Regions from separate parts of the Homo sapiens genome. Here regions 2, 3, 4, 5, 6 and 7 are each reported to be linked to region 1. The links are microRNA targets in miRTarBase. Many come from high-throughput screens and were not tested one by one. Region 1 holds a microRNA gene; each other region holds the end of a gene's coding sequence. Distances are from middle to middle.

The links. The annotated mature microRNA hsa-miR-6758-5p reads UAGAGAGGGGAAGGAUGUGAUGU and lies in region 1 at 1,893-1,915, opposite strand. An mRNA with a match to its seed (bases 2 to 7 or 8) in the 3' UTR can be bound and repressed. Matches are read on the target gene's strand: a 7mer-m8 pairs with bases 2 to 8, a 7mer-A1 pairs with bases 2 to 7 and ends in A, and an 8mer does both.
Region 2: the mRNA of SV2C is a reported target of hsa-miR-6758-5p. The part of its 3' UTR that is shown has no 7-base or 8-base seed match.
Region 3: the mRNA of IGDCC4 is a reported target of hsa-miR-6758-5p. Seed matches in the 3' UTR shown: 7mer-m8 at 1,084-1,090 and 7mer-m8 at 1,525-1,531.
Region 4: miRTarBase lists ZNF70 as a target of hsa-miR-6758-5p. Seed matches in the 3' UTR shown: 7mer-m8 at 643-649 and 7mer-m8 at 598-604.
Region 5: miRTarBase lists PRKAR2A as a target of hsa-miR-6758-5p. Seed matches in the 3' UTR shown: 7mer-m8 at 3,177-3,183 and 7mer-A1 at 3,104-3,110.
Region 6: the mRNA of SNX4 is a reported target of hsa-miR-6758-5p. Seed matches in the 3' UTR shown: 7mer-A1 at 1,229-1,235.
Region 7: the mRNA of PIANP is a reported target of hsa-miR-6758-5p. Seed matches in the 3' UTR shown: 7mer-m8 at 609-615.

What each region holds. Positions count from the first base shown.
Region 1 is chr12:57,510,608-57,514,607 of GRCh38, reverse strand. MIR6758 (microRNA 6758) reads right to left here and starts at 1,920; the gene lies at 1,858-1,920. MARS1 (methionyl-tRNA synthetase 1) reads right to left here. Exons shown (of 21, transcript NM_004990.4): 12 at 2,740-2,910; 13 at 2,505-2,600; 14 at 2,255-2,372; 15 at 1,644-1,857. It also overlaps the pseudogene LOC124903093.
Region 2 is chr5:76,325,131-76,329,341 of GRCh38, forward strand. It overlaps SV2C (synaptic vesicle glycoprotein 2C), which reads left to right. Exons shown (of 13, transcript NM_014979.4): 13 at 234-4,211. The coding sequence ends at 417. Among named protein-coding and RNA genes, the nearest start is that of SV2C-AS2, 16 kb to the left of the region's middle. RefSeq lists an enhancer at 302-801.
Region 3 is chr15:65,380,145-65,384,355 of GRCh38, reverse strand. It overlaps IGDCC4 (immunoglobulin superfamily DCC subclass member 4), which reads left to right. Exons shown (of 20, transcript NM_020962.3): 20 at 1-2,872. The coding sequence ends at 347. Among named protein-coding and RNA genes, the nearest start is that of IGDCC3, 4.2 kb to the right of the region's middle.
Region 4 is chr22:23,740,285-23,744,495 of GRCh38, forward strand. ZNF70 (zinc finger protein 70) reads right to left here. Exons shown (of 2, transcript NM_021916.4): 2 at 1-4,211. The coding sequence ends at 3,516. Among named protein-coding and RNA genes, the nearest start is that of ZNF70, 8.7 kb to the right of the region's middle.
Region 5 is chr3:48,748,069-48,752,279 of GRCh38, forward strand. It overlaps PRKAR2A (protein kinase cAMP-dependent type II regulatory subunit alpha), which reads right to left. Exons shown (of 11, transcript NM_004157.4): 10 at 4,108-4,211; 11 at 1-3,650. The coding sequence ends at 3,517. Among named protein-coding and RNA genes, the nearest start is that of IP6K2, 33 kb to the left of the region's middle.
Region 6 is chr3:125,444,031-125,448,241 of GRCh38, reverse strand. SNX4 (sorting nexin 4) reads left to right here. Exons shown (of 14, transcript NM_003794.4): 14 at 416-1,592. The coding sequence ends at 463. LOC124906351 (small nucleolar RNA U13) reads right to left here and starts at 2,181; the gene lies at 2,079-2,181.
Region 7 is chr12:6,691,678-6,695,888 of GRCh38, reverse strand. It overlaps PIANP (PILR alpha associated neural protein), which reads left to right. Exons shown (of 5, transcript NM_001244014.2): 5 at 238-2,098. The coding sequence ends at 463. Among named protein-coding and RNA genes, the nearest start is that of ZNF384, 4.4 kb to the right of the region's middle.

The sequences.
Region 1 (4,000 bases):
CCTGGAACAGGTAACTCCTGGCTCCCTCAAGCTAGTAGACAAGGCCTAATTATTTACTCTTTCTCTCCCCTAAGAATCTGACTCTGCACATAAGAAACCTGATTAAGTTAAACAACTGTACCTCTTATTTTTAAGAAGTCATTACTCGGCCGGGCGCAGTGGCTCACGCCTAAAATCCCAGCACTCTGGGAGGCCGAGGTGGGCAGATCACCTGAGGTCAGAAGTTCAAGACCAGCCTGGCCTGGCCATGGTGAAACCTCGTCTCTACTAAAAATGCAAAAAATTAGCCGGGCGTGGTGGTGTGCACCTGTAATCCCAGCTACTCTGGAGGCTGAGGCAGGAGAATTGCTTGAACCCGGGAGGCGGAGGTTGCAGTGAGCCAAGATCGCGCCACTGCACTCCAGCCTGGGCAACAAGAGAGAAACTCCATCTCAAAAAAAAAAAAAAAAAGTCATTACTCAAAATGACCAAGCTGAGTATGTGTTAACTGCTATCAAACAAACACTCTAGGCAAGTACTTTTTTTTTTTTTTAATTTTTTTTTTTTTTGAGGATTCTCACTCTGTTGCCCAGGCTGGAGCACAGTGGCATGATCTTGGCTCACTGCAACCTTTGCCTCCCGGGTTCAAGTGATTCTCCTGCCTCAACCTCTTGAGTAGCTGGGATTACAGATGTGCGCCACCACGCCCGGCTACTTTTTGTATTTTTAGTGGAGACGGGGTTTCACCAGGTTGGCCAGGCTGGTCTCGAACTCCTGTAGGTAAGGACTATTTATTAAATGTGGTTAATTACCAAAGCTGAAAGTGAGTAGCAGGACTGACCTATAAGGGTCCAGGGCTCAGAGAGTGTGACTAAAGAATCCTAAATTCTGGAGAATACTGCTTTAGATTGCAGAAGAGCTGAGATAGGCACCAATGATAGAATGTGAGCCTAAGGTAACAAAAACTCTGAACTCTGAAGAGTATAGCAGAAGCCTTTTTTTTTTTTTTTTTTTGAGACAGGATCTCCCTCTTTTGCCAAGGCTGGAGTGTAGGGGTACGAGTACTGCTCCACTGCAGCCTCAATCTCCCAAGTTCAAGAGACCATCCCGCCTCAGCATCCTGAGTGGCTGGGACTACAGGTGTGCGCCACCACGCCTGGCTGATTCTTTTTGTAGAGATGGGAGATTCATTATGTTGGTCAGGCAAGTCTTGAACTCCCGGCCTCAAGTGATCCTCCTGCCTCAGCCTCCCAAAGTGCTGGGATTACAAATGTAAGCCACCATGCCCAGCCCACAGAAGCCTCCTACCCCCACACCAAAATAACCCCTTTCTTCAGCCAAACTTTTCAATGATCTGCAGGTGAACTATTTTGCTGGGAGAGAATACATCTTCAATTCTACAAAGAACAGTAATAAGGAAACAATTTACAAAAACCCACTTTATAACCAACTTTGCTAAATCACATCTCTACAGCTAACTGTTCCATCAAGCACACATAGCCTAGTATGTGCTAGGAACAGATCCCAATTAATAGAAATCAACTTTCCACAGTGTCCTCACAGCCTCCTGCCCATTTTCTAGTTCTCTCCACATTCCCATCTCCTGAGGGAAAATGAGCCCCACCCCAGCTCACTGCTAACTCTGACCCCTTACCAAGTCCTACCTGTTGATGAAGTTGCCCAGGTTGTTAAGCAGCTCAGAATTATTCTTCAGCAGCAGGTCCGTCCAGGAGAAAGCACTGTCCTGGCCCTCAGGCCGAATGTACAGCAGATAGAAGCGCCAGATGTCAGCAGGGATCCCCGTGTCCTGGGCCATGTCCCCAAACACTCCCACACCGCGGCTCTTAGAGAATTTCCCATCCTCATAGTTCAGGTACTCTGGACAGAGGAGAATGAGTGAGAACCATCTGCTCACATCACATCCTTCCCCTCTCTAGCCCACTAACTCTTCCTTCTTTCCTCTTTCTAACCTCAACTATGGGTGTCTAGCAACATTTCTCCTTAAGGGGCTGGTATGCTCAGATTTTGGGAGTCCCTTCCTATCCATTCTGGCCCTTTTTTCTCTTTGCTTATATCTACTAAAGAGTTTTAGCTTTAGACTTTTGCTTTCTTCAGGTTCTTGTTCGTTTCTCTAGGTTGAGTTCTCATTTTAATTATTTCCTATTTCAGCTCAACTCCTAACTCAAGATAGCAGCTCTCCAAGATCTTTTTCCAAGTACTGCCTCACCCCTCATTTCCTATGAACACCCCATCAGTAGTCTTCCAGGGTACTTACCTGTAGCAATGAGGTGGCTGACCAAGGTATAGTTATCCTCAGCTCCTAGGGCTGAGCAAGGAAAGACTAAGCTATGGAAAGGAACATTGTCTTTGGCCATGAACTGATACAGGTCCACCTAGGGGAATGTGGTTAGGAGAGATTTCCTGAGACCTCCTTCAAAGGCCCAAGGAAGACCAGACACCCAACCCTAACACCCACACCCTACCGCCTACCCTCCCCATGCACAGCCTAACCAAGAACTGCTCACTTGCTCTGGGTTCTTCCACCATCTCTCCCACTGGTCTGTGTAGTTGGCTGTGATGGACAGATAGCCAATAGTGGCATCAAACCAGACATAGAATACCTGGAGGTCAGAAGGAGGTAAACATGTTAGGGACCAATCCAAAGTCTCAAACTGAAACAAGACATAATCAGCAGTCTACTCTGCTAGCCCAGGGTTTCAACACTAAGGCTGAATGATATGAATAAAAAAGGGTTTTTACCTTGTCTTCAAAACCTTCTAAGGGTACAGGGGTTCCCCATTTGAGGTCTCGGGTTATGCAGCGTGGCTTGAGGCCATCCCGAAGCCAAGAACGGGTGATAAACTGGGCATTGGGTGTCCAGTCACTGCCAGGCAATGTCCTCCCCAACCACTCCTCCAGTCGCTTCTCCAGCTGAGATAACGGAGAAAGAGGGCTGATTTAGGAAAGTCTCATATATGGTTAGCATAAGGATAAACACATATAACCTTTTTGGAGCACAATTTGGCAATATATAACTTTTTTTTTGGAGACAGAGTCTTGCTCTGTTGCCCAGACTAGAGTGCAGTGGTGCAATCATAATCACAGCTCACTGCAGCCTAAACCTCCTGGGCTCAAGCAATCCTCCTACCTCAACCTCCCCAGTAGCTGGGACCACAGGTGCACACCACCATGCCAGACTGTAATTTTTGTAGAAACAGGGTTTTGCCACATTGCCCAGGCTGGTCTTGAACTCCTGAGCTCAAGCAATCTGCCCACCTCAGCCTCCAAAAGCGCTGAGACTACAGTTGTGAGCCACCCTGCCCAGCCTTAACTAGATTTTTAACACACAGCCAGGGGCAGTGGCTTGCGCCTGTAATCCCAGCTACTCCGAAGGCTGACGCAGGAGGATCACTTGAGGGCAGGAGTTCATGACCATCCTGGGCAACACAGCAAAATCCTGTCCCTAAAAAAAATTTTTTTTTTTTTAATTTTTAAAAATATGGAACACTTCACAAGTTTGCATGTCATTCTTGTGCAGAGGATGTGCTAATCTTGTCCATATCAGGGTCTCACTGTCACCCAGGCTGGAGTACAGTGGCACATCATGGCTCACTGCAGCCTCAACCTCCCAGGCTTAAGTGATCCTTCCACCTCAGCCTCCTGAGTAGCTGGCACTACAGGCACGTGCCACCACACCTGGTTAATTTTTGTATTTTTAGTAGAGATGGGTTTCACCAAGTTGCCCACCCTGGTCTCAAACTCCTGGGGTCAAGCAATTCTCCCGCCTCAGCCTCCCAAAGTGTTGGAAGTTGGAATTACAGGCATAAGCCACCGTGCCCAACCAATTTTTTCTTTTTTTAAATACAGACAGGGTCTTGCTTTGTTGCCCAGGCTACTCTCAAACTCCTGGCTTCCAGCGATCCTCCTGCCTCAGCCTCCCAAAGTGCTGGAATTACAGGCATGAACCACCATGGCCAGCTGAGGAAGTGCAAAAAAGAAAAAAAAAATTTTCTTTTTTTTT
Region 2 (4,211 bases), not on the chromosome of region 1:
AGGCAGAGTAAGAGTCAATGGAAGCTATGGTAAGAAAGTCAACAGAGGGCTGGAGGAACAATACCAACAGCTAGGATTCTCTACTCCCAGATTTGCTAACAAGCATTGATTTGCTCCACTGATATACAACACAATCTGAGGGAAGATCATTGAAAATCTAGGATCTTTTGGTCTAAAGTTGGAATCATGGGGAGGCATTTTCTCAACCTTGTTCATGTCTCTTTCCTTTGCAGGGCAACAGGCTTTGGCTTCTTAAATGCGCTATGCAAGGCAGCAGCCGTCCTGGGAAACTTAATATTTGGCTCTCTGGTCAGCATCACCAAATCAATCCCCATCCTGCTGGCTTCTACTGTGCTCGTGTGTGGAGGACTCGTTGGGCTGTGCCTGCCTGACACACGAACCCAGGTTCTGATGTAATGGGAAAAAAAGCCATCCTTCCTGCGTTTCTTCCTCCTGCCCTGGGTCAATTCTCCTTCCTGACTCAAGGCTTCAGAGTTTTCCTATATAGAAAGGTGATCAAGTATCAGAACATAAACACGTGCTGTGACTTAAAATTTAGAAGCATATCATCTTGCCCCTTTGTGATTTTGCACAGGTTGTTTGTTTGTTTTGTTTTGTTTGAATGCATTGTTATCTTTCCAAACTGTGATGCTACTGCCTCCCGCAAATCAGTGGAAGCATTTCTAAAATGCCCTAGGCAGCCAGGCTTCCCTGGGGTTCTGCTCATTGAAAGTTTAGAAGCTAAGAAGACTGGGCTGGTGTAAGAAATAGATCCTGCTCCTAATTTAACATTAACAGGAAATATAAGTCGGCACATTATTGCATTTGTGCTGAGAAGAGGGATTCTTTTTTTTTTTTTTTCTAACAGAGTGATATTTCCTGTTTACTTAGAAAAGGACACCCAGTAATTCTCACTGTTATAGCAGAGCCTTTCAAAGAAAACCATGTGGCACCAAACAGGGCTGGGTGGGGCTCTTTGGGGCAAGACAATTAAGGTGACCGCTGACAAGAAAAATAAAAGCTCTGCAATTAGCAGCAAAAATCTGAGTGTGCTGCATAAGCAAGATTTCTGTCAGAAAGCCCAATTAAACCTCTGAAAAGTGTGAGGAAAAAGAACTGTAACAGTATCTGTGACTGTGGCATGTGGTTCAGAATGTTTGAAAATCAGAGATCCGAGAGAGAGCTTCTGCCTCCATTTACCACTCCCACTCCTTCAGCTGCCCTTGGTCTTGCCAGACAGCAGATTCAGGGAAAGAAAGCTGCTTCTTAAAAACTGTCTGCCTACCTGATTCTGCCACTTACCCACACTGTCTCTAGTCTAGAGATTGCCAGTGGATAGCTAAATTGTAAATTGCAAATTAGGAAGAAATTCACACCCAGAGCCATTTGGAAATACAAAATGGTACCTCTTTCCAGTACCTCTTTGCTGTGGGACTGGCCCGCCAGGACCCCCACCCCACCTGGCCCGCAGTTGACATTCAGCTTCCCAGCTGGCATCAGCAAAGAGGGTTTGTCCCTCTAGCTTCCCCAGGGCTGGCCCACTGCTCAATGCGCTCCTGGCTCCCTGTAAAATCACAGCCCGCCTGCACTCCTGAGGGCCCCTCTCACAGACAGACCATCTCCCTGTGGTTGTTTGACTGCTCATTTTACCTCTGGAATCTGCCTGGGCTTGGAAGAAAGAGGTCAGCCAGGACATTCCCACGGGCCCGCTGTCAGCTACATGACCTTCTCGCCTCTCAGGCTCCCCTTCCCCCAGGCTCGTCCTTTTTACACCTCTTCTTTGAAATCTGAACCTTCCTTGTAGACTTGCAGCCAATGACCAGAAGCCAGGAATAAATCCCATATTTAAACAATATTCCTTTTTTAACTGCCTCGATAGAGGTTTATTCTTGTTACTTATTATAGGCATTTTCAGGCAAGCCATAGCTTGGGGCCTCCAGGAAGGGAAAGCTTTTGTTTCCACTGATCATTATTTTCAGAGATGTCCTAACTCCCCTGAGGCCCCCCTGCCTCCCCCTCCCCTTCCTAATGATCCCTCGCAGAGCTCAGACTAAGTGAAAAGCTTCTTTCATTAACATAAGCCATTAATCGACTTCCCCTTGAAGTAATTCAGGTCTGCAGAGGGGGGAAGACTGGTGTTGGGGGCAGTGGGAAGAGGGTGGTTCCCTGGGGGTCTGTGATCAGGGCTAGAACATCAGGAAAACCCGAACCAAAAACTGCAAAGGTGGCAGGAAGAAGAAAAATCACTGAAGGCTAGACAAGATGCATTTGAAAGATACCAACCGCACAGGGAAAGAAACAACTTTCTCTCACTTCTGCCTCCTATCATTTTATTGGAGAACAAAGACAGCAGTCAAACAACCCAAGAAAGTACCCTGTATGTTTTTCTTCTTCCACATGTACCCATTTTCCCACCTATCTCTCCCTGATTTGTCTTCTTTAAAAAGACATTTGGGGACCTGAGCAGGTCTTTTAGTTGAATGCAGCATGTGCAGAAATAACTGCAAAAGCCAGGAGTGCATCTCCATCAACCCATCAAAAGAAAAATAGAAATGTACATGGGCATCGCTGTCTCTAGTCCTCTGTGATAGTTCACTTTGCTAACTAGACTACCTTTACTTTTCAAAATATCTCTAATGTCTGCTCTGGGGTCTAAATGCATAAAACATCTCCCAAGCTGCAGAGCACAGTTATTCAGAATTTTATTTGAACACTGGGTTGGGTCAGCATAGGATAAACCAGCAAAACCTTACTTCATGAGACCTGCCATCCGTGTCCCCTGCAGAAGGACCGTTCTTGGCCTACTTGTTACCTAATCCAAGCATCCTTGGTGGCCTAAGAGGGATCTTTTCTCATCTCCTGGACAGTCTGTGGTCACAAACCTTCTTGGTCACCACCTCTCCCACCTTTTGTGCACTCTTCCCTGCCTCCTTGAGACTGTTCATCACCTTGATTTTCTAAGAGAGCTCAAATCATTTCCAAAGCATGTGGTGTGGCCTGTATAGCTTGCTCCAGATTTAGCTGGAGATTAAGAAACAGCCAGGATATTAAACAGAAACTCTCAGTTGTATCAGTGTAGCAGGCCACTGGCACCTAAACACGCAACTGGCATCTCATTTCGCCTACAGTAGAAGGAAAATGAAAATTTGTACAAAAATGAAAACCTAGGAAATAGTCCACTTGCTCCTATATTTTTACCACCTTTTCTAACTAAAATTTCCCTGTTGCTCTTTGGAATCAATCCAGAATGCTCCCAAGTCCCATTATTATCACAGAATCTTCTCAGTAGGGAAAAACAAACAACTGCTTCAAACTGTGAATTCTGTATGTACCACATTCTATCCCAGGTATTGGGTTTTAAGGCACCCAACTCACATTCAGTCCTGCTGCCTGAATCATCTCACACCAGAGTACAGACCTTGGAGACGCGATAGATGGGTCCTAGCCTGACCTTCACCACTAAGCGGTACAGGGACCCAGATCTTGCTGTGGAGACTGTAAGTCGTTGAACATCTCTAGTTCTCACTTTCCCCGTGCACAAAATAAAGGATTGGGACTAGTCTGCTCTCCACTCTCCAGCATTGTAGAAGACAGTAATGAAAATAGCTTCATCTTATCTGCCTTCTTATGCTAAACTCATTTTTTTTTTTTTTAGGTGGAGTTTCACTCTGTTGCCCAGGCTGGAGTGCAGTGGTGGGAACTCTGCTCACTGCAACCTCCGCCTCCCAGGTTCAAGTGATTCTCCCACCTCAGCCTCCCAAGTAGCTGGGACCACACGCATGCGCCACCACGCCCAGCTAATTTTTGTATCTTTTAGTAGAGGTGGGGTTTCACCGTGTTGGTCAGGCTGGTCTCGAACTCCTGACCTCAAGTGATCGGCCCACCTCAGCCTCCCAAAATGCTGGGATTACAGGCGTGAGCCACTGGCGGCCTCAACTCATTTTTACAAGCACTAAATAGGTTTAGTTTATAAACTGAAAAATTAGGAAATAGGCACGCATAAAAAGAGTGTAGGAAGTTGTTTGGGAAGCCCGCATGGAATAGGCCAGAAAGCACAGTCCCCATGCTGTCTGCCCTGCCAGCATCTCAGCATCCTGACTAGTATCTCTGTTCACTGCAGGTTTGACAGTTACCATCACCCAGCCAGAAAAGGGCCCCGCCTTGCCAGATAAACGCGCTTAGGTTAGAAGACTATAATTGCAATATTACCC
Region 3 (4,211 bases), not on the chromosome of region 1:
ACTCTGACTTTAGTGCATCTAACGGGAACCCTGACCTCCATCTCCAAGACCTGGAGCCTGAGGACCCCCTGCCTCCAGAGGCTCCTGATCTCATCTCGGGTGTTGGGGATCCAGGGCAGGGGGCAGCCTGGCTGGACAGGGAGTTGGGAGGGTGTGAGCTGGCAGCCCCCGGGCCAGACAGACTTACCTGCTTGCCAGAGGCAGCCAGTGCTTCCTGCTCCTACCCGGACCTCCAGCCAGGCGAGGTGCTAGAGGAGACCCCTGGAGATAGCTGCCAGCTCAAATCCCCCTGCCCTCTAGGAGCCAGCCCAGGCCTGCCCAGATCCCCGGTCTCCTCCTCTGCCTAGCTCTTCCCAGAGGATGTGGTTTGGGGCAGGCAGGTATGGATCACATAGGATGCGATACCTGTGGCCGTGTATGTCCACATGTGTGCCTGTAGATACATCATCAAGCCCTTTGGAGCTTCCTAAGTTGCTTTGGCTGAGGGGAGAGGAAAACATGGATTATTCACTCCCCCCATACTCTTTGTGATACACATGTGACATGTGAAAGACATACGAGACATAGCTACATGTGATGTGCACATGTGTGAAGTGCATGTATGCGTACTGGTTGTTGAGCTGGGAAACCGTGGCCCAGGCAGTGGTCACTACAGCCTGATTGGTCCTCCAGGTCAGAACGGTGCCCCACAGTGGTCAGTCCCCAGCCCTGTGGGCCCCCACCTCCATCGCCCAGCCTTTTATTACACACTCTGAGAGTGTCTCCAATGCCTGTCTGACAAAGACAGTCCCAGCCCATTCTCCTGTCTGGCTGGGTTGGGTGCAAGCAGGCTCTGAATGCCTGGCATTTCAGCTGCATCACCTCCCAGCTCCTTATTGCCCAAATAGAGAGGGTGGCCCTGGCTCCCCTCCGAGCAACTCTGCATTTAATTTTGTAATCTGGGAAGTGCCTGGTTTTGAAAATCCGCTTTCTCTCACTCTTCCCCTCCTTCCTTGCCCCTGGCTGCTCTAGTGTTCTGTCTCCCAGTCACCTCGCTCTCCCAGCACCAGTGCCCTTCTCCTGCTCCCAGATACTCTTTCCTTTCCTCTCTCCTGTTTTCCTTCCTCTGCTATCTCTCACACCTCTCCCAGACTATGTCATCTTGTTCTCCTGCCTGGGTTCAAACTCTGCATCCTTCTCTAACAACGTGACTACCTCATGTCTGCTTCAAGGCCCCCGTGCCCTTCCTGTATCCGCGGCTGCCGCGCACTCGCCTGCCATCCTCCTGCCTCCTCTTCACTCAGTGCTTCTGCTTGCCCTGCCCCAGGCAGCCCACCCACGCCCAGTGCGGGTGTGGAGAAGATCTTCTGGCTTCCCTGCATCTTGCCTTTGGGATTGGGATCCAAGGGTTCTCCATGGATGGATCCAAGTCATAGAGGGGAATGTTTGAGACAGGGAAGGGGGCTGTGATCCAGAGGCTCAGAATAAAAAGATGCCCTCCCTTCTATGCAGGGGGGCAAGTTTACTGGATGGAGATGATTTGGGCCTCTCTTCCAGAAGAAGCTAAAGGAAGAGAAGGGGAGTGAGAGTTCAGGGAGGCCCTTCCCACCCTGTGAGGCTTGACTTGATCTGGATTGGGGATGACAGGAATCTCACCCTCTGGGGTGCTGGCAAGGAGGTCTTTGCACAGGAAAAGGGGTAGCTCATTTCAGTTTGTTTTTTCTTTAAATTGAATCCTCAAGTCATTTTCTGTTCACCTGCCGCACAGGGACAAGCTTGACTTCTATTTTCTGTGTAGTGAAAACAATGTCATTTATTTGGTTTTTCACCTCAGCCCTCTCATAGGAGCATAGAATGTTAGGGTCTTTACTCCCTAATGATGTCTGATTGGCACATCAAGAGTTAACTCTGCCTTCTGGGCCAAATTCGAAATAACCAGTCCATTTTTCCTTTTTTTTTTTTTTTTTTTTAAATGGTGGAATGTCTCTCAGCACAGTTGCGGCTTCCTCAAACCCTGAAAGCATCTGTGTTTATTATACTCGGGTGTCACTCACTGTTGATGTCTGCACCTACGTTTCCACCTCCTCCCCCTCCTTCAGCCAGCCTATGATAACACTAAAGATTATTAATGTTGGTTTTGTATCTCGTTAAAGACAGAATTGTCACTTGTAGTATTTCTGTAGCATTCAGCGCTGCTGTGGCTAACACCACTGTGTATGTTTCATCATTGCTCTGAAGGTCAAAAGCCTCATTTTATTTTGCTGGTTTGATTTTTTTTTTTTAAAGAAGAAAAAAAAACTGCCCTGAATTAAATGGCTGTTTTAACAGTAGGCTCTTAGCATTATACCACATAGTCATTTTTCATGTTCTTGTTTAACAGGCACTGAGGTTCTGGTTTAAATTAAATAGCTGCAAATGAGACAATTTATAACCCATTAGGTTGGGTGGAAAATTGTTTCTCAAAAGCAAATAAGTAATAAATCTGGTATCTGCCTATAACTCACAGTTGATAAGAAAGTGGCCATTTCTCACTAGCACTATATATGATTTGGGCTCTGGGTAATTTGGAAGTGTTAGGTTTGTGTCTTTGTAGCAGTATTTTTATTAGAAAAGAATCTATTGGCCTTTTACAGGGTATTAATCCCTTTGTCACCTACCATTGATGCCTTAAGTTTTCTGAGTCTCAATTAAAAATCTTCCTTTTCTTGATGCATGACAAGTGTAATCAGTACTTGCTCATTTATTTGTCTGTATTTAGTTTATGCTGTACTATTTAATTATCCTTCCAGCGTTTTTTTTTTCTCCTTACAAATATGATACTCTTTAGTGTTAAGCTAAGGCATTGATTCATGTATCTGTCCTTATAATGAATTAATAAACTATTTTCCAGAAATGTGGAATTCTCTTTTGGAACCATTGACCATGACTAGAATTTCCTCAGCCTTTGTGCCCTAGGGATTTTATTTCTTACTGTGATGGGAAATGATGTTGTTGTTGTTTTTGAGATGGGATCTCTCTGTCGCCCAGGCTGGAGTGCAGTGGCACAATCACAGCTCACTGCAGACTCAACTTCCTGGGTTCAAGCAGTCTTGTCACTGTAGCCTCCCTAGTAGCTGGGACTACAGGCACATGCCACCATGCCTGGCTAATATTAAAAAAAATTTTTGTTATAGAGATGTGGTCTCGTTATCTTACCCAGACTGGTCTCGAACTCCTGGGCTAAAACCATCCTCCTGCCCCAGCTTCGAAAAGTGCTCGATTACAAGCATGAGCCACTGCCTCTTGGCCCAAAATAGTGTTTTGTTTGTTTGTTTGTTTGTTTGTTTGTTTTTTCAGACTAATCTCACTTTGTCGCCTAGGCTGGAGTGCAGTGGCATGATCTCGGCTCACTGCAACCTCTGCCTCCCGGGTTCAAGTGATTCTCCTGCCTCAGCCCCCCGAATAGCTGGGATTACAGGCATGCACCACCACACCCGGCTAATTTTTGTATTTTTAGTAGAGACGGGGTTTCACCATGTTAGCCAGGCTGGTCTCAAACTCCTGACCTCAGGTAATCTGCCCGCCTTGGCCTCCCAAAGTGCTGGAATTACAGGCATAAGCCCCTGCGCCCGGCTCAAAATGGTGGTTTTTGAGGGTAAAAAGCAGGTGGTCATGGGAAAGAACTAAACCATCTTCCTCCCTCAACAGGCACTTAGGAAAAAGACGTAAACTTAGGAAAGATGTGTCCTTTGATGGCACTTCCTTAGACTCTCTGGGGATCTCTTTCCATCTGGGCACACATTTCTCTGAACTTTTTTGGGTGCAGGAAAGAGGGAACAACTCCAGAGATTTGGGCTCCACAACTATTCTCCTGTATAACTCTGGTCACCAAAATTACTCATGGCCACACAATCACACACACGTGCACTGTGTGTACAAGCTCAGAGACCCGCACATGCATACTTTGCCTTCACAAACACCCTTGTGTCTGTCCGTTAATGCAAATGTGCACACAGTCTCACACACAAAACTCCACACTCACACCCCACACACATCTTGGCATCACAGTTGGCAGCTGCTGTCTGCTAAGATCTTTACAGAGCCCGGAACATGCTTTCTATTGGAGGGAATCAAGAGCTAGAGGCTGCTTTGCTCAGGACCACCCCCAAAGTGGTGGGCCAGACCCAGAGTTAATTGACAGATCAGACAGAGAGATACTGCACATTTTGCACTCGGCAGAATAGCCATTATTT
Region 4 (4,211 bases), not on the chromosome of region 1:
GGGTGACAAAGCAAGACTCCATCTCAAAAAAAGAAAAAAGAAAAAAGAAAAAAAAAGGTAGGACAACAAAAACAAAGAACAACTAAATTAAAAGATAATTGATTAAAATATTGCCAGGGATGATCTTTTATAACTTTACACTGTTTGAGAATCTAAATAGAATGAGAGAGTTTAAAAAAAAAAATCTAATAAGCTGGCTGGGCACATGGCTCACGCCTGTAATCCCAACACTTCAGGAGGCCAAGGCAGGCAGATCAGGAGGTCAGGAGTTCGAGACCAGCCTGGCCAACATGGTGAAACCCCATCTCTACTAAAAATACAAAAGTTAGCCAGGCGTGGTGGCACATGCCTGTAATCCCAGCTACTCAGGAGGCTGAGGCAGGAGAATCACTTGAACCCGGGAGGCAGAGGTTGCAGCAAGCCAAGATCGCACCACTGCACTCCAGCCTGGGTGACAGTGAGACTCTGTCTCAAAAAAAAAAAAAAAAAAAAAAAAACTAATAAAACAAGGAAAGAATTTGAACAGAGGGAATGAGGCTCTGGTCATACTTCCAAAAAAGAACCTGGTCTTACCATGTTTATCTGTTAACCCTTGGGAGAGAGGGGGGATCTTCATCTCCACGTTACACAAAAATTAGAAAGAGAGAGGGAGGGAGAGGAGGAGAAAGTGCACATTTCAAAATGCAAGAACAGCACAGAATTATGAGCTGGGAGTGATGCTGGAGTGGGCAGGGGCGGCCTGATCTCCATGCGGCTTGCTCAGAGTGGGTAAACCAGGTTGGCTGAAACGAGGGTTTACGTGCAGGAAAGCTCCTGAAAGTTGGTTTTAAGGAGAGTGGTGACTTGTGCAAAATGATGCTTTAAAAATCAATTTGGCTGGGGTGTGCAGGAAGGATGGGGAGGGAGAAACCAAAGATAGGTAACAGACATTTGCCAGATGATAACGGTGGGGAAGAGGGGCAGGTGTAAAGAGGAGGTAGATCTTTCAGGGACCCCTGCTTGATGCCGCCTGCTGTCCCCACTGCATCCTAGCATTCTCTCTTCACTCTTGATAGAGACAGGCCTGAAATGACAGGCCACTTGCAGGCAATGCCCAGGGCACCATCCAGTCAGTCCAACTGGTTACACAGAGGGTTCTGGTGGACAATGGAGTGCTGGTTAAATGTTAAATGTTTCACATACGTAGCAAAGACAGGGGCTGGACAGAGGCATGGCTGGAACTCCCACCATGACCTCTCCAGCCCATCATATCTGTCATTTGGAAATCTCTGGCCTATCAAGACCCACTTAGTAACAGTTATGGCTTTCCCATGTTTATTCATCAAAACTAGGCATAATGGCCATGCTGAGCTTCTGATCAGCTGAAATACCCAGTGTTACCATGATGAGTTCATGTTAGCCCAGCCATAAATGTTTAGGAAACTTCAAAACAGCCTAGACTGCCTCCTTCCCCACTAGCTCTGAGGAGCCCAAGGGAAGCCAGGACTAAAGAGATCCCCAAGGCCCCAGCCAAACACTTTCCAAGCGCCCAGCTGACCATCAGCCTGAGCCCATCCCTGAGGCTCCGGGTGCGGGGAGCAGGGAGTGAGGGCACTGAGACAGAATGGCCTTCAAGCTCTGCTCAGCCAAAGCCAGCAGGCTGACATTGGAAGCTGTCGAGGGATGCACAAAAACCCAGCATGGGCCAGGTGTGGAGGCTCATGCCTGTAATCCCGGCACTTTGGGAGGTCAAGGCGGGCAGATCACGAGGTCAAGAGATCGAGACCATCCTGGCCAACATGGTGAAACCCCGTCTGTACTAAAAATACAAAAAATTAGCCAGGCATGGTGGCACGCACCTGTAGTCCCAGCTACTCAGGAGGCTGAAGCAGGGGAATCGCTTGAACCCAGGAGGCAGAGCTTGCAGTAAGCCAAGATCACGCCACTGCATTCCAGCCTGGCAACAGGGCAACACTCCATCTCAAAAAAAAAAGCCCAGCACAGGGCCCACAGCCTGGCTGCACACTAGGAAGTTATAATCACCTGGGGAGCTTTAAAACATGCCACCACTGGGGCTGACTGAACTGGTCCAGGTGGGACACAAGCAATGGTACTGTTTAAACAAGCCCCACGTGAACTCCTAGTTGGCAGGCGGGGAAGACAGACAGAATGTGGAAGTGCAGAATGACACTGCTGCTACAGGAGGCTCAGGATGGCATCCTAGAGGAAGTGTCCTTGTGTGGGACACTGCATCCGCAGGCATACACAGCCCAGGCTGCAAGGGGTGGAGGGAGAGAAAGCCCTGTTCAATGAGAGGTCCCACTGCTCAGAAACCAGACGGGAACATCTCTCCAGTCCGTGGAAATGCACAGGGGTGGGGCAGGGGTCACTCTGGGTCTCTGTCCTCAGTCACCATGACTGCTCACAGTTGCCAAAGCACTTTCACAGTGGCTGTGTTCTGAATGACAGCCTGGCACCAACCCTTAGAGGCACGTGGCCAGTTCCCATTACCCCAACTCTTGGATGGGGGAATGGAGCCTGGGGAAGTTACAGGACTTGTTCAAGCTCACCCAGGTAGGAGGGGGTGGAACTAGGACTTGAACCCAGACCTTCTGATTAGAACACAGCCTCCTCCAACAAGCCACCCAGCTTCCCAGGTCCCCTGACACTGGGGCAGGAGGGCTGCATCATTGCCAGAACAGACCAGACCCAGGCCCTGCTGATGTCCAAGGCACACTGTGGTCTTGGGGACACTATGTCTCAGGGAGGGGTTATTCCTGGAGGGCAGTCATGTCCGGTGTCCAGGCTGAGTCACGGCTGGGTGTCAAACATCCTCTGGCCAACAGGATCAAATCTCTATCCTCCTGTAACAGAGCTGTCTGAGGGAAACTGCCCTAGGGCTAAGGAGAGGGTTAAGAGGCCACGCCCAGGGGCTCACCACCCTCATCCCCAATCTCAAGACCCACCCTCCAGACCTGCCTTTGCTCTGCAGACCTGTTTTGGTTGTCCCCACCAATGCCCAACGCAGTGAGAAAATTCTACTTTGCTGCTGACACATCTACTTTTGAATTCATTTTTCTTCTACTGCTTTGGACTGTGAGTGTGGTTTCTGTCTTCTAAAAGTGCCAGACTGCAGCCTGTTTTAAAGAGTTCTTCTGATATTTTCCTGGGTTTAATTCAACTTTCTCCCTCTTGGCATTTATTCTTCTAGATTCTGGGAAATGTGAAGACAGGGCAAAATGAAATCCTGTAGGCTTGGGAGTCAAATGCAAGAAGGAGAAACTGAAGGCCAGCTGTCTTTTCTGGCTGCCCTCCCTATCACCCCACCTTCCCTTCCATGCAGAAAACCTGCTGAGAGCTGGCGTGCTTGGCCCAGGGCCACACAGGGCCTTCCTGCTAGTGGGATGTTCAAGAGCGCTTAGGTGGGAAGGTTTCCATTCAGCATCAGGGAGGTAGGTGGGGTCTTGGAGACCACGCGACGTGGAATAAAGGCTCCATCTGGCACAGGCTTTCAAGCTTTGTGTGGGCTCCTCTTTCTATAGCTTCTCCCCAGAATGAATCTTCTGATGGCGAATCAGGTGCGAGCTCCCCCGGAAGGACTTGCCGCACAGATTGCACACGTAGGGCTTCTCTCTGGTGTGGGTTTTATAGTGCTCAATGAGGGCTGACCGGTGCCGGAAGGCTTTGCCACACTCGCAGGTGTAGGGCTTCTTGCCGGTGTGGATTCTCTGGTGCTGGATCAGCGCAGAGCTGTGGCAAAAGGCCTTGCCACACTGACAGCACTCGTAGGGCTTCTCACCGGTGTGGATGCGCTGGTGCTCAATGAGGGAGGAGCTCTGGCTGAAGGCTTTCCCACACTTCTGGCATTTGTAGGGCTTCTCGCCAGTGTGGGTCTTGCGGTGCTCAATGAGGTTGGAGCTCTGGCTGAAGGCCTTCCCGCACTCATCGCATTTGTATGGTTTCTTCCCAGTGTGGATCCGCTGGTGTCGGATGAGGTGTGACCTGTGACAAAAGGCTTTCCCACAGAGATCGCACTCGTGAGGTTTCTTTAGGGTGTGGATCTTCCGATGCTGGCTCAGGCCTGAGCTCTGGTTGAAGGATTTCCCACATTCCTTACACTGATAAGGTCTCTCTCCTGTATGAATTCTCTCGTGTTTTCTGAGGCTGGAGCTCCGGCTGAAATCTTTCCCGCATTCCCTGCACTCGTAGGGCCTCTTTCCGGTGTGGATCTT
Region 5 (4,211 bases), not on the chromosome of region 1:
TATGCAGTGAGGGTCTGAACTGATGATCCATATGTCAATCAGTAGTTGGAGGAGGATGACTTTTTTTTTTTTTTTTTGAGATAGGGTCCCACTTTGTCCCCCAGACTGGAGTGCAGTGGCACGATCATGGCTCACTGCAGCTTCAGTCTCCCAGGTTAAAGGAATCCTTTCACCTCAGCCTACTGAGTGTGCACCACCAGGTCCAGCTAATTGTTTTTTTAACTTTTTTTTTTTTTTTTTTTCTTGGTAGAGACAGGGTCTCCCTCTGTTGCCCAGGATGGTTTGGAACTCCTGGGCTCAAGCAATCCTCCCACTTTGGCTTCCCAAAGTGCTGAGATTACAGGCATGAGCCACTATGCCCAACCTGAGCAGGATGACTTAAACCTGATCAATTCTACTCCAAAACAGCAACTATCATTAAGTCAGGGGTGTCAAGGAGGACTCTGTGAAGGCAAAGACTAGACTGGGATGTGTGCGAGAGTGGGATAAGAAGGCCCATCCCTAGCAGACTGCAGGAGTGACTCTGGCATAGAATTCATGGCCAGCCCTAACTAGTGTGATGGGTGGCAGGGAGGAGGCATCTGCTCAGTGTTCAAACAAAATCCTTACAAGTTCTGGGGCTGGACCTCTGTGTCACTCCTGAATCCCAATGTATCCGTTACCTTTACAAGAAACTGGTGTGGTTCTTGTCTGCTAAGGGCAAGACCTGTTTTCTGAATTTACTTTCTGATAATAAAGTAACACCATGGAAAAGAAGAACCTCAGAAAAATATGGGGTCACCACATGGGCTTTCCCAGTGCTAGCTGCCTGTTTTGGAAAGCTGCAATGTAGGCTACAGAGGGCAGTCTGAAAAGAGTCCTTCTGCTTTCGCTTCCTGGAGCTTAAGAAGAAAAGAGGAATTACCAAGGTTGTGGTGGGTTATTTACTCTGGAAATATCTTGGTCACACTGTCCGTGGCAAAAGCGGAAAGCCTAGCTTATGTGGATAGTTGAAGGTGACTGTGTGGGCCATCATTATCTACAATAGAAATGACTCAAGCCCTAGCATGTAATCTCTTAGGGACTTAACAAGTTAAAAAGAAACAAAAAATCATATTGGAAATGGCCTCTTGGTTTAATATAAACTTGGTTACAACATTCAAATTTATCTTTACGGAAATTTCACACTGCTCCTAGGAGCCCTTATAGCATCTGATTCTAAGTTATTCTGAAGGAAAAAAAAATTATTCTGAAATATACCTTATTAGGATGATCACTGGAATTCTACCAGATATAAGTAAAAGGCTAAATGGGTTTTAAATAAATACAAGCTAAATTACCTTCTTCTGGGGTTAACAATTAGAATCCCAAATACCCCAACATCTCAACTAGAAAGGCCTTCACAGTAATTCTATGAAATTGTAAATGATGCCAAATTTTTTTTTTTTTTTTGAGATGGAGTCTTGCACTGTCACCCGGGGTGGAATACAATGGTGCAATCTCGGCTCACTGCAACCTCCACTCCCAGGTTCAAGCGATTCTCCTGCCTGAGCCTCTCAAGTAGCTGGGATTACAGGCGCCCACCACCATGCCCAGCTAATTTTTTGTATTTTTAGTAGAGACGGGGTTTCACTATGTTGGCCAGGCTGGTCTTGAACCCCTGACCTCGTGATCCGCCCGCCTCGGCCTCCCAAAGTGCTGGGATTACAGGTGTGGGTCACCGTGCCTGGCCAATGCCAATTTTTGAAAACAGATTTGATCTTTAGGGTAAATGCCTGAGTCAGCTGACAAACTCCATATACATGAATATGTCCAAGTGAAATTACCTAAAGAATAATTTTTTTTCTTTCTTTTTTTTTTTTTAAGAGACAGGGTCTCACTGTGTCACCCAGACTGGAGTGCAGTGGCATGATCACAGCTCACTGTTGCCTTGACCTCCTGGGCTCAAGTGATCCTTCCACCTCAGCCTCCTAAGTATTTGGGACTACATGCATGCATCACCACACCTGACAAATTAAAAAAAAATTTTTTTTTTGCCAGGTGCAGTGGCTCACATCTGTAATCCCAGCACTCTGAGAGGCTGAGGTGGGCGGATCACCTGAGGTTGGGAGTTTGAGACCAGCCTGACCAACACAGAGAAACCCTGTCTCTATTAAAAATACAAAATTCGCCCGGCATGGTGGCGCATGCCTGTAATCCCAGCTACTCAGGAGGTTGAGGCAGGAGAATCACTTTAATCTGGGAGGCGGAGGTTGCGGTGAGCCAAGACCGCACCATTGCACTCCAGCCTGGGCAACAAGAGCGAAACTCCGTCTCAAAAAGAAAACAAAAAAAAAATTTTTGTTTTTGTAGAGACAGGATCTCACTCTGTTGCCTAGGCTGGTCTTAAGCGATCCTCCCAGCTCAGCCTCCCAAAGCACTACAATTATAGGCATGAGCCATTGAGCCTGGCCTGAGAATTTTCTTTAATTTCAAAAAAATAGCTGCTGCTTCTTTAAAGAGTTTAAAAATTGATCGGTTCAATGGCAAAGCTACACAACAACTCTGGAGTAGAAGGAAAGAACTCTCTTTATAGTACAACCTCTTTCCAGCATACTGCCATCAGCTAGTAGAGGCAACTGCAAACAAATGGTAGGAGTTGCCCAGGAAGGTATTTGGGCTGGACAAAGTGATAGCAACCCTCCAGACCCTGGCTCCTTATAAATGTATAGCAATTCATTCATACAAACTGCACAGAGGTTAAACAAAACCTACTAAAAAAATTAAAAAATCCCACAAAATCCCCAACCCAGAAAACGTTTCCTGGCTCTCTACTAACAGTAAAATGTGCTGAGCCCAAATTTTCTGCTCTAACATGGGTCCCACGGACCTATCAGTCTGCTCTGGGGTGCTGACCTGCTGGGTCCTGAGCAGGGTCTTTCCCTAAGCATCACTGTGGGTTTGGAGACAGCTGTAATGTGTGCAGCTGTCAGCAGAAAGTACAATGCCACTGGGCTACATATGTCCATATCATCCACCACCATTTCCCACTGTAAAACCAAAGGCTGCAACTGTGAACAAATGTGGACTTCCTCAAAGGACAAATGAGGAGACTGAAGGCTACATTTCCTCCTTTGAGAACCATTAGAGAGTGTCTACAGTTATACAACAGGTTTCTGCAGACCCTGTGGTAACTTCCAAAAGCAAGAGTAGCAGCAAGAGAGGAAAGGAGCATGTTTATACTTTGGACTTTGTATCAGGCACTTAAATTGTTGGAGAGACATGCCGTTTTGAACCAAAGATATAAAAACTGGGTTGGAGTAATCTTTACAAGTGGTCTAATGAATGGGCCTTCAGAAGCAAAGTGGAGGTGTGGGTTGAACCTCTGCCCATCCTTTAGTGCTGACTTTCAAGTTTTCTAAATGCCCATAACCACAGCAATGGCAGCAGTGGCGGCAACGGCAGGAACAGTTCTGTCATGTCTGTTTTCTGTATGTGTTCTGTGGCTGACCAGAAGGTTTTGGTGTCACACTAAGAAGGCTCTGGGGTGTGGCACACCTACTGCCCGAGGTTGCCCAGATCCACGCTGGAGCCAAACATCTTCACCAGCTGTTCCTCATAGTGTGAGATGTTCCTCTTCATGATGTCCATGCAGGGCCCCAGAAGCCTCTCGAATGCTTGTACATCCATAACTGCATTGTTAAAAAGAGGTGAGGGAGAGAATGAATTCAAGCCATTTCCCTCATGCAAACCTTTTCCTAAACATACCCATTCATGTTGTATGAGATTACGCCTTGGGACACCAGCCACTTGCAAAAAGGGATGTTTCTATATGAATTCAGAAGACTGTCATCCAGGTTAGAGACTTTACAGAGTCCAGCAGCTCCTGTTCTCCCCATTCTCCCACAGCCCTGGACATCAGTTCTTTTCATACGGCTAAAGAACCTGCATGCCTGTCTTGCTCACAGGCTGTCATCAGTACTCAGAAATGTTTGCTGAAAGCATCCATTCATCCATCTCTGGTTGGTCACATAAACTGCCTAGGCCTAGACAGCAGTAAAAGATGGCAGAATATGTCAAGGCTTGCTGATGGGAAAAAAATATTACATGTTAGAAAAAGAATATTAATGCATAAAGAACTTTTCTTACCTAAGCATTTGACATCTCCAACTGCATAAGCTGAGGCAGCTCTGGGTTTGTTGGTGACCAGGGCAAGCTCTCCAAAGTACTGCCCCTTATGGCAGCGGGCAATC
Region 6 (4,211 bases), not on the chromosome of region 1:
GAGGTGGGAGGATCCCTTGAGCCCTGGAGGTCAAGGCTGCAATGAGCCATGATTATACTCCAGCCTGGGTAACAGAGTGAGACCCTATCTCCAAAAAAAAAAAAAGACTGAAAACTTGTTTGATTTACAAATAGAAATTACTCGAGTATGTGATATGAAATGAATTAACTCAGTTTTCCAACAAGTTGTAGGAGTTCTTTTTCCATTTTGAAGATAAGTTCGTATTAGAGATTCTGTTTCTCTTTTCAGAAGCATTAGACATTTGCTTATATTAGCCACTTCCCAAAATAGTGTCATATTTTCTCGACTTCTTAATTATTCCAAAAAGCAAAACTTAGTGTACCACTAAGCCAAGTACTTGGGTTTTCAGATTCCTTCCAAACTCACATTTTAAAGTTTTTATTTTTATTTTTAGGGAATTCAAGTTTGGACCAATGCTAAGGAATGCTTTAGCAAGATGTAATCCTGTGAATTGAATTTCTCTTCAATCAAAGTGCCCCAAAACAGAAGCACAAGTAAATAAAAGAAATTTAAGTCACTACCTAGTATACATAAACATATACAATAAGTTAAATAAATTCAGCTTTCTTTAACTTAATTGTGGTCGTGTTAATGTAGCACAAAAAATATATTTTAATGAAGATTAAATATTATAATTTGAGGTTTTGGGGACTGGTGCTGATTCCAAAAAGTTAATTTAATAATATATACCAACAGATTGTTTGTCACGCTTCTGAACCAATGACTGAATGTCAAGATGTTCGTTAATTTCTAGATGTTTGTTTCAAGACCAGCTGTTTCAGATCTATTAATGTAGGGAATTTTTCCCTAAGATTGAATTCCTATATTTACTTGGTAAGATCCACTAATCTGTTATAGGGAGTTGTTTTCTCTTGCCTTATAGTTGAGCTATTTGGTTTGACAAAGCTCAGCAGAAACTTGATGTGAAAAATCTACGATTTTCTTCTACATTCATTGATGCCCCTTGTAATGTTTGCATACACTAGAAAATGCCTTCAATTTGTGTTTTACCAGAATTTTGATACTGGTCAGAAATTTTATACTGCCAACAAAGAAGACTCAACTTCTCAGATCTATAATGGGATACATTGTCATCCTCTAGCAACTCCTATATAGAAAGTTTTAACTGAATATGTTACATATAAGAATTAAATTCTTCTCAAATAATTCTTAACCTCAGTAATGAGCCTAAATTTACTCTGCTTGGCTCTCTACACATGGCATTTCAGGGTATAAGATGTAGCATTTCAATGTGTAAGATATATGTACTAAACATATGTGTTGCTATCTTCATCATTAACATCCTTCTTTTCTATTGCTTGGCTGTAATTTTTGTAAAGATAAATTATATTGTTTTTTTGTATGTGTGTTTGTAGTATATGTTCAGAAGGCAAGCATCTTCATTTTGCTAGCTTTGCAGAATCTTAAAATGTGTACTCGTTATTTCTAATGATGTAAAAAAAAATCCCTAGTCCTGTTTAGCATTTGACTTTTTTATATGTTTTAAATGTTGCTGGATTTTTGTGCTGTTTGCCAAACTTATACAATAAATAAATGAAATATTGTGCTGATTTTCAGATGATTTTTGTTAATTTAACAAAGTGATCCATACATATTAATATCTGATGCTCTGTAAGAAAATGATATCTGTCATACTATGTTTTAAAGTGATTAATGCCACATGTTCTCACTTATCAGTGAGAGCTAAACATTGAGTACACATGAACGCAAAGATGGGAACAATAGACACCAGGGCCTCCTTGAAGGGGCAGATTCGGAGGAAGGCGAGGGTCGAAAAACTAGCTATTGGTTACTATGCTCACTCCCTGGGTGATAAAATCATTTGTACACGAATCCCCAGCAACACACAATTTACCCATGTAGCAAACCTACACAGGTATCCCCTGAACCTAAAACAAAAGTTGAGGAAAGAAAAAAAAATAAAGTTATTAATGGTATAAATTTGTCATCTACCAAAATATTGGTTTTTAAAAATATAAGATGCTGAAATAAGACATGATTTTTAAAATTTTACTTTTTTTTTTTTTTTTTTTTACTGTCAGATGGGTAATGGTTGAAGTTGTAACAAGGTTTGAGGGAGGCACATCTCACACGTGGGTGTGAATACCCAATCATCATGCTTATGAACCACAAAAGGATCATGAGTTTTTTTTTTGTTTTTGTTTGTTTTACTTTAAAAAAAAAAAAAGAGACAGGGTCTGATGTTGCCCAGGCTGGTCTGAACTTCTGAGCTCAAGGAATCCTCCCGCTTCAGCCTCTCAAAGTGCTGGGATTACAGGCGTGAGCCACCCTGACCCGGCCTGTTTTGTTTTGAGACAGGGTCTCTGTCGCCCAGGCTGGAGTATGGTGGCACAATTATGGCTCACTGCAGCCTCAACCTCTGGGGGCTCAAGTGATCCTCCCACCTTAGCCTCCCAAGTAGTTGGGACTACATAGGTACACCACCATGCCTGGCTAATTTTTTTATTTTATTCTTGTAAAGATGAAGTCTCACTGTGTTGCCCAGGCTGGTCTCAAACTCCTGGGCTCAAGCGATCCTACCCCGTTGGCTCCCAAAGTGCTGAGATATAGGCAGGAGCCCCTGTACCCGGCCATGTCAGGGTTTTATAAAAGATAAAATTGGTAGAAGCAAAAGTCATCTGTGTGGATACACATTTTATTCCACTGAATTGTATCATCTCTTGACAGATAAAATACCTTTCCCCTTGGCATTTAAAGATCAAAAGCCTTTTCCCCCAAACTAGCTTTGGACTCGATGTAAAATGTTAGACTTTTTTCTACTAGCTGACTTAATTTGAGAAGGCCATTATTAACTATGTTTCAAAAATGATTTAAGTTCCATGGCTCATGCCTGTAATCCCAGCACTTTGAAAGGCTGAGGTGGTTCGACTGCTTGAGCCCAGTTCAAGACCAGCCTGGGCAACATGGCGAAAACCCATCTCTACAAAAAATACAAAAATTAGTCGAGTGTGGTGGTGCACACCTATGTAATCCCTACCCAGCTACTCAGAAGGCTTAGGTAGGAGCATCACTTGAACCTGGGAGCTTGAGGGTACAGTGAGTCATAATCACACCACTGCACTCCAGCCCAGGCAACATAGTGAGATCCTGTCTCAAACCAGCCCAGGCGACATAGTGAGATCCTGTCTCAAAAATAAATAAATAAAAAGATTTAAGAAAACTCTAGACTGGGTGCAGTTACATGCCTGTAACCCCAGCACTTTGGAAGGCTGAGGCAACTTAAGGCCATCTTAAGGAGTTGAAGAATAGCCTGGGCAACATAGCTAGACTCTGTTGCTACAATTAAAATAACAAAAATTATGTTATTTTCTCTAAAATATACAAATGTACATTTGGTTATGTGTATATTTAACTAGGAATATCTTGACGGGGTTCCTTTTGAAAATTGTATTGCTGGGTGTGGTGGCTCACACCTGTTATCCCAGCATTTTGGGAGGCCAAGGCGGGTGGATCACCTGAGGTCAGAAATTCAAGAGCAGCCTGGCTAACATGGTGAAAATACATGAATTACAAATACAAATACTCTCCTAAAAATACAAAAATTAGCCAGGCGTGGTGGTGGGCACCTGTAATCCCAGTTACTCGGGAGGCTGAGGCAGGGGAATCGCTTGAACCTGGGAGGCAGAGGTTGCAGTGAGCCGAGATTGCACCACTACATTCCAGCCTGGGCAACAGAGTGAGACTCTGTCTCAAAAAAAAAAAAAAAAAAAAAAAAAAAAAAAAAATTGTTTCATTTTCTAGCACAATCATTCCTTTAAAAAAAAAAAGAATTTTATGATGGAAATTTTTTTGTACTATCCAGACTAAGTATAAAGAAAATAACCTTTGTTATAACCCTTTTAAGTATTTAAAAATCAGGAATTAAAATGAATTATTAAAAAGATGGGAGAATTAGTTCAGCAAAGATAAATATTAAAAGGCAATATAAGCAATAACTAAAGAAAAGTGACTCATCAAGTTAATGTAATTAGTAAGAAAGGAAGATTGCATCTTGACAGTGTATTAGTGATGTGGTTGGTATGGTATAGTTAAAGCATTAAATTAACCGGAGTCATATTTAACCTTCATTTATATCCAAAAACTTGAGTACAGATGAATGAGTCACTGGTAATTACAACATAGCATTCAAAAAGGAACTGAGGGTTCCT
Region 7 (4,211 bases), 51 Mb from region 1:
TGGATCAGGTTTGGAGGGTAAGGAGGTTTAGATTACCAAGCTCCCCTAGAGGGCAGGGGAAGTGGCTTTATGGGCACAGAGTCCCAGGGGATTTAGTAGAGAGAACTGTTAAAGGCCAGTTTCTCTGCTATAAGATGTTGGGAGTGACTGGGCGAGGCTGGGGGTGACCACTGGTGCAGGCCCAGGATGGGGGCTACTTGAGTGTGCAAGAGAACCTCTTTTCCTCTGGTACCCCAGCTGGGACCGCAGCCAGAAGCGACGCAGACCCTCAGGGCAGCAAGGTGCCCTGAGGCAGGAGGAGAGCCAGCAGCCACTGACAGACCTGTCCCCGGCTGGAGTCACTGTGCTGGGGGCCTTCGGGGACTCACCTACCCCCACCCCTGACCATGAGGAGCCCCGAGGGGGACCCCGGCCTGGGATGCCCCACCCCAAGGGGGCTCCAGCCTTCCAGTTGAACCGGTGAGGGCAGGGGCAATGGGATGGGAGGGCAAAGAGGGAAGGCAACTTAGGTCTTCAGAGCTGGGGTGGGGGTGCCCTCTGGATGGGTAGTGAGGAGGCAGGCGTGGCCTCCCACAGCCCCTGGCCCTCCCAAGGGGGCTGGACCAGCTCCTCTCTGGGAGGCACCCTTCCTTCTCCCAGTCTCTCAGGATCTGTGTCCTATTCTCTGCTGCCCATAACTCCAACTCTGCCCTCTTTGGTTTTTTCTCATGCCACCTTGTCTAAGACAACTCTGCCCTCTTAACCTTGATTCCCCCTCTTTGTCTTGAACTTCCCCTTCTATTCTGGCCTACCCCTTGGTTCCTGACTGTGCCCTTTCCCTCTTCCTCTCAGGATTCCCCTGGTGAATCTGTGATGCCCCCAATGTTGGGGTGCAGCCAAGCAGGAGGCCAAGGGGCCGGCACAGCCCCCATCCCACTGAGGGTGGGGCAGCTGTGGGGAGCTGGGGCCACAGGGGCTCCTGGCTCCTGCCCCTTGCACACCACCCGGAACACTCCCCAGCCCCACGGGCAATCCTATCTGCTCGCCCTCCTGCAGGTGGGGGCCTCACATATCTGTGACTTCGGGTCCCTGTCCCCACCCTTGTGCACTCACATGAAAGCCTTGCACACTCACCTCCACCTTCACAGGCCATTTGCACACGCTCCTGCACCCTCTCCCCGTCCATACCGCTCCGCTCAGCTGACTCTCATGTTCTCTCGTCTCACATTTGCACTCTCTCCTTCCCACATTCTGTGCTCAGCTCACTCAGTGGTCAGCGTTTCCTGCACACTTTACCTCTCATGTGCGTTTCCCGGCCTGATGTTGTGGTGGTGTGCGGCGTGCTCACTCTCTCCCTCATGAACACCCACCCACCTCGTTTCCGCAGCCCCTGCGTGCTGCTCCAGAGGTGGGTGGGAGGTGAGCTGGGGGCTCCTTGGGCCCTCATCGGTCATGGTCTCGTCCCATTCCACACCATTTGTTTCTCTGTCTCCCCATCCTACTCCAAGGATGCCGGCATCACCCTGAGGGCTCCCCCTTGGGAATGGGGTAGTGAGGCCCCAGACTTCACCCCCAGCCCACTGCTAAAATCTGTTTTCTGACAGATGGGTTTTGGGGAGTCGCCTGCTGCACTACATGAGAAAGGGACTCCCATTTGCCCTTCCCTTTCTCCTACAGTCCCTTTTGTCTTGTCTGTCCTGGCTGTCTGTGTGTGTGCCATTCTCTGGACTTCAGAGCCCCCTGAGCCAGTCCTCCCTTCCCAGCCTCCCTTTGGGCCTCCCTAACTCCACCTAGGCTGCCAGGGACCGGAGTCAGCTGGTTCAAGGCCATCGGGAGCTCTGCCTCCAAGTCTACCCTTCCCTTCCCGGACTCCCTCCTGTCCCCTCCTTTCCTCCCTCCTTCCTTCCACTCTCCTTCCTTTTGCTTCCCTGCCCTTTCCCCCTCCTCAGGTTCTTCCCTCCTTCTCACTGGTTTTTCCACCTTCCTCCTTCCCTTCTTCCCTGGCTCCTAGGCTGTGATATATATTTTTGTATTATCTCTTTCTTCTTCTTGTGGTGATCATCTTGAATTACTGTGGGATGTAAGTTTCAAAATTTTCAAATAAAGCCTTTGCAAGATACTCGAGTCCCCTGGTTCTGCCTTCTGACCCCCGTAGAGAGGAGGAGAGGGGTGGGCAGCTAGGAGGAGGCACAGGATGAGGTGGGGACCCCCTCTAGACCTAAGTCACCTGCCCTCCTCTGACCTGGAGCTGGGGGCCAACTGGGGCTTTAACTTGGGACAAAATGGAAGGGAGCCATCCTGACGAGGAGCAGTGGTACAAGAGAGAAACTAGAATAGAAATCGTGGCTCACTTATTCCTTGCCAGGGAGGGTCAAGAGAGACCAAAAAAAGGGAGACAGAAGAAAAGGAAAGTTACATGGAAGGATAGGAGGTGGATCAAGGCGGAAGAGAGACCTGATAAGACAGACGGAGGGAGAAGGGGGAAAGGAGAAGAGAAAAATGGAGCAATGGAGAAAAGATGAGAGGGAGCCAGCCATCCGAAAGAAGCTGCCCTGCTTGGTTTATTTTCAGCTTTGCTCCCTAACCTGCCCCCACCCACAGCTGCCCCCCAAAAGCTGTGCAGAATCAGAAGCCCTGTGGTTAACTCGTTAGCTTTCCCTACTCTGCCCTCTCAGAGAGAGGCACTGCAGGGGTGTGGGGGTGGGATCAAGGGGTGTTTTTGGGGAGGGAATGCAGGCTGCCCAGCTGGGATCAGTCACCTCTCAGTCCCCAATTTCTAGGTTTGGCTCTTGTAACAGCCCTGTGAAAACCCACACATCAGCCTCTCAGCTGTTGCTAGGCTCTATTGCTATGGTAACCACCCAGGTCCCATCTATCCCCCCTCCCCCAATCTGTGCCCCACTTGCTCCCTGGAAATGCGGTGGCCCCAGGGAGGATAGGGATGATGTAGTGTACAAAAGGGTGGCCTGGGCTGCTCTGGACTGGATATGCCCCCATGCATTTATCTTTCAAGCTAGGTTAGGAATGTCTGTGTGTTGGTAGGTGTGTGCTTTAGGTGTTGGGAGCTTTACTGTGAGCTGAGGGAAGTGTGGCTGAGCCTGTGCAGCACATAATGCTGAGTGCCAGGAAGAGGCAGTGTATTTCTCAGGATTAGAGCAGTGTGTGCATTCAGGGCGTCACACTCCCTAAGAAAAGGACTGCTACAAGGGAAAGAAGCAGAGCTGGGCCAAGGATTGATGAACCAACTCAAAGCAGAGGTGCCCGGCAAACAAGCTTCTGAGGAGTCAACTCACTGGGGGCATGAAGATATCCCAGCAGGTGGCTGATGGGAGAGCGGGCTGGATAAAACCTGAGGGTACAGGATGAGGCATGGATGGTATACACTGTGGGCCGTGAGGGAGGGATCCAGATCCAAGGAGGGTGGGATAGGAAGCTTCATTAACCTTTCCTTCTTTCCCCACAGGAATCTAGTCCTTGTCAGGTGAGGGTGGGGAGAAAAGAGAAGCATTGGCACAGAAGGGGAAGGAGCTCAAGTGCCGGAGAGCACACTGGGCTCTCACCTTCAGCAAGGATCTCTCTTCAAAGGGACAGTGTGACCCGTGGCTCATCCATATGCAAAAGGCAAACATGAAGGCCCCTAATGAAGAGGGAATTAATTACTGCCTGATTAGACCACTGTTTCTCTAAATTTAAATAAATTAAAATACACCAGCAAGGTACTGGAAATCCTCACCTGTTCCCTCTTCCTAAATGTCCTCCTTTCCCCATGGAAAGTCAGAAGGCAGGAAAGACAGAGGAGGAAGGAGACTGTTCCAGACTCTGAACTGTACTAAAAAAATTCTCCCAAATGATACTGCACTGTCACGTTAGCCATGAAGAGTCGTAAGGCCCTGGGGAGCAAGCCCTAACTTTTCTCTCCTGTAGTTGAAACAGAGACTGTGGGGCTTTGAGAGGTCCTCAGAAAGCTGCAGCAGAGTCACTAGCCAAGAAAAAAACAATGGCCATGCTGTCCTTTTGGGAACTGGAAGGTTCTTCGAGGTCACACATCACAGCCACCACTGGAACCAGCGTCTCATCACCATCCTTTCTTTGCCTCCTGAGCTGTGCATCAAATGACTCAGCCAGGCTTCTCTTAGCATTTTTCTGGAATGCTTGCCACTGCGGCTTAGACCAAACCAGGGAATGGGGAAGCCCCCAGGAGGAGGGAGGGATCTCCCAGGCACAGCTTAGGG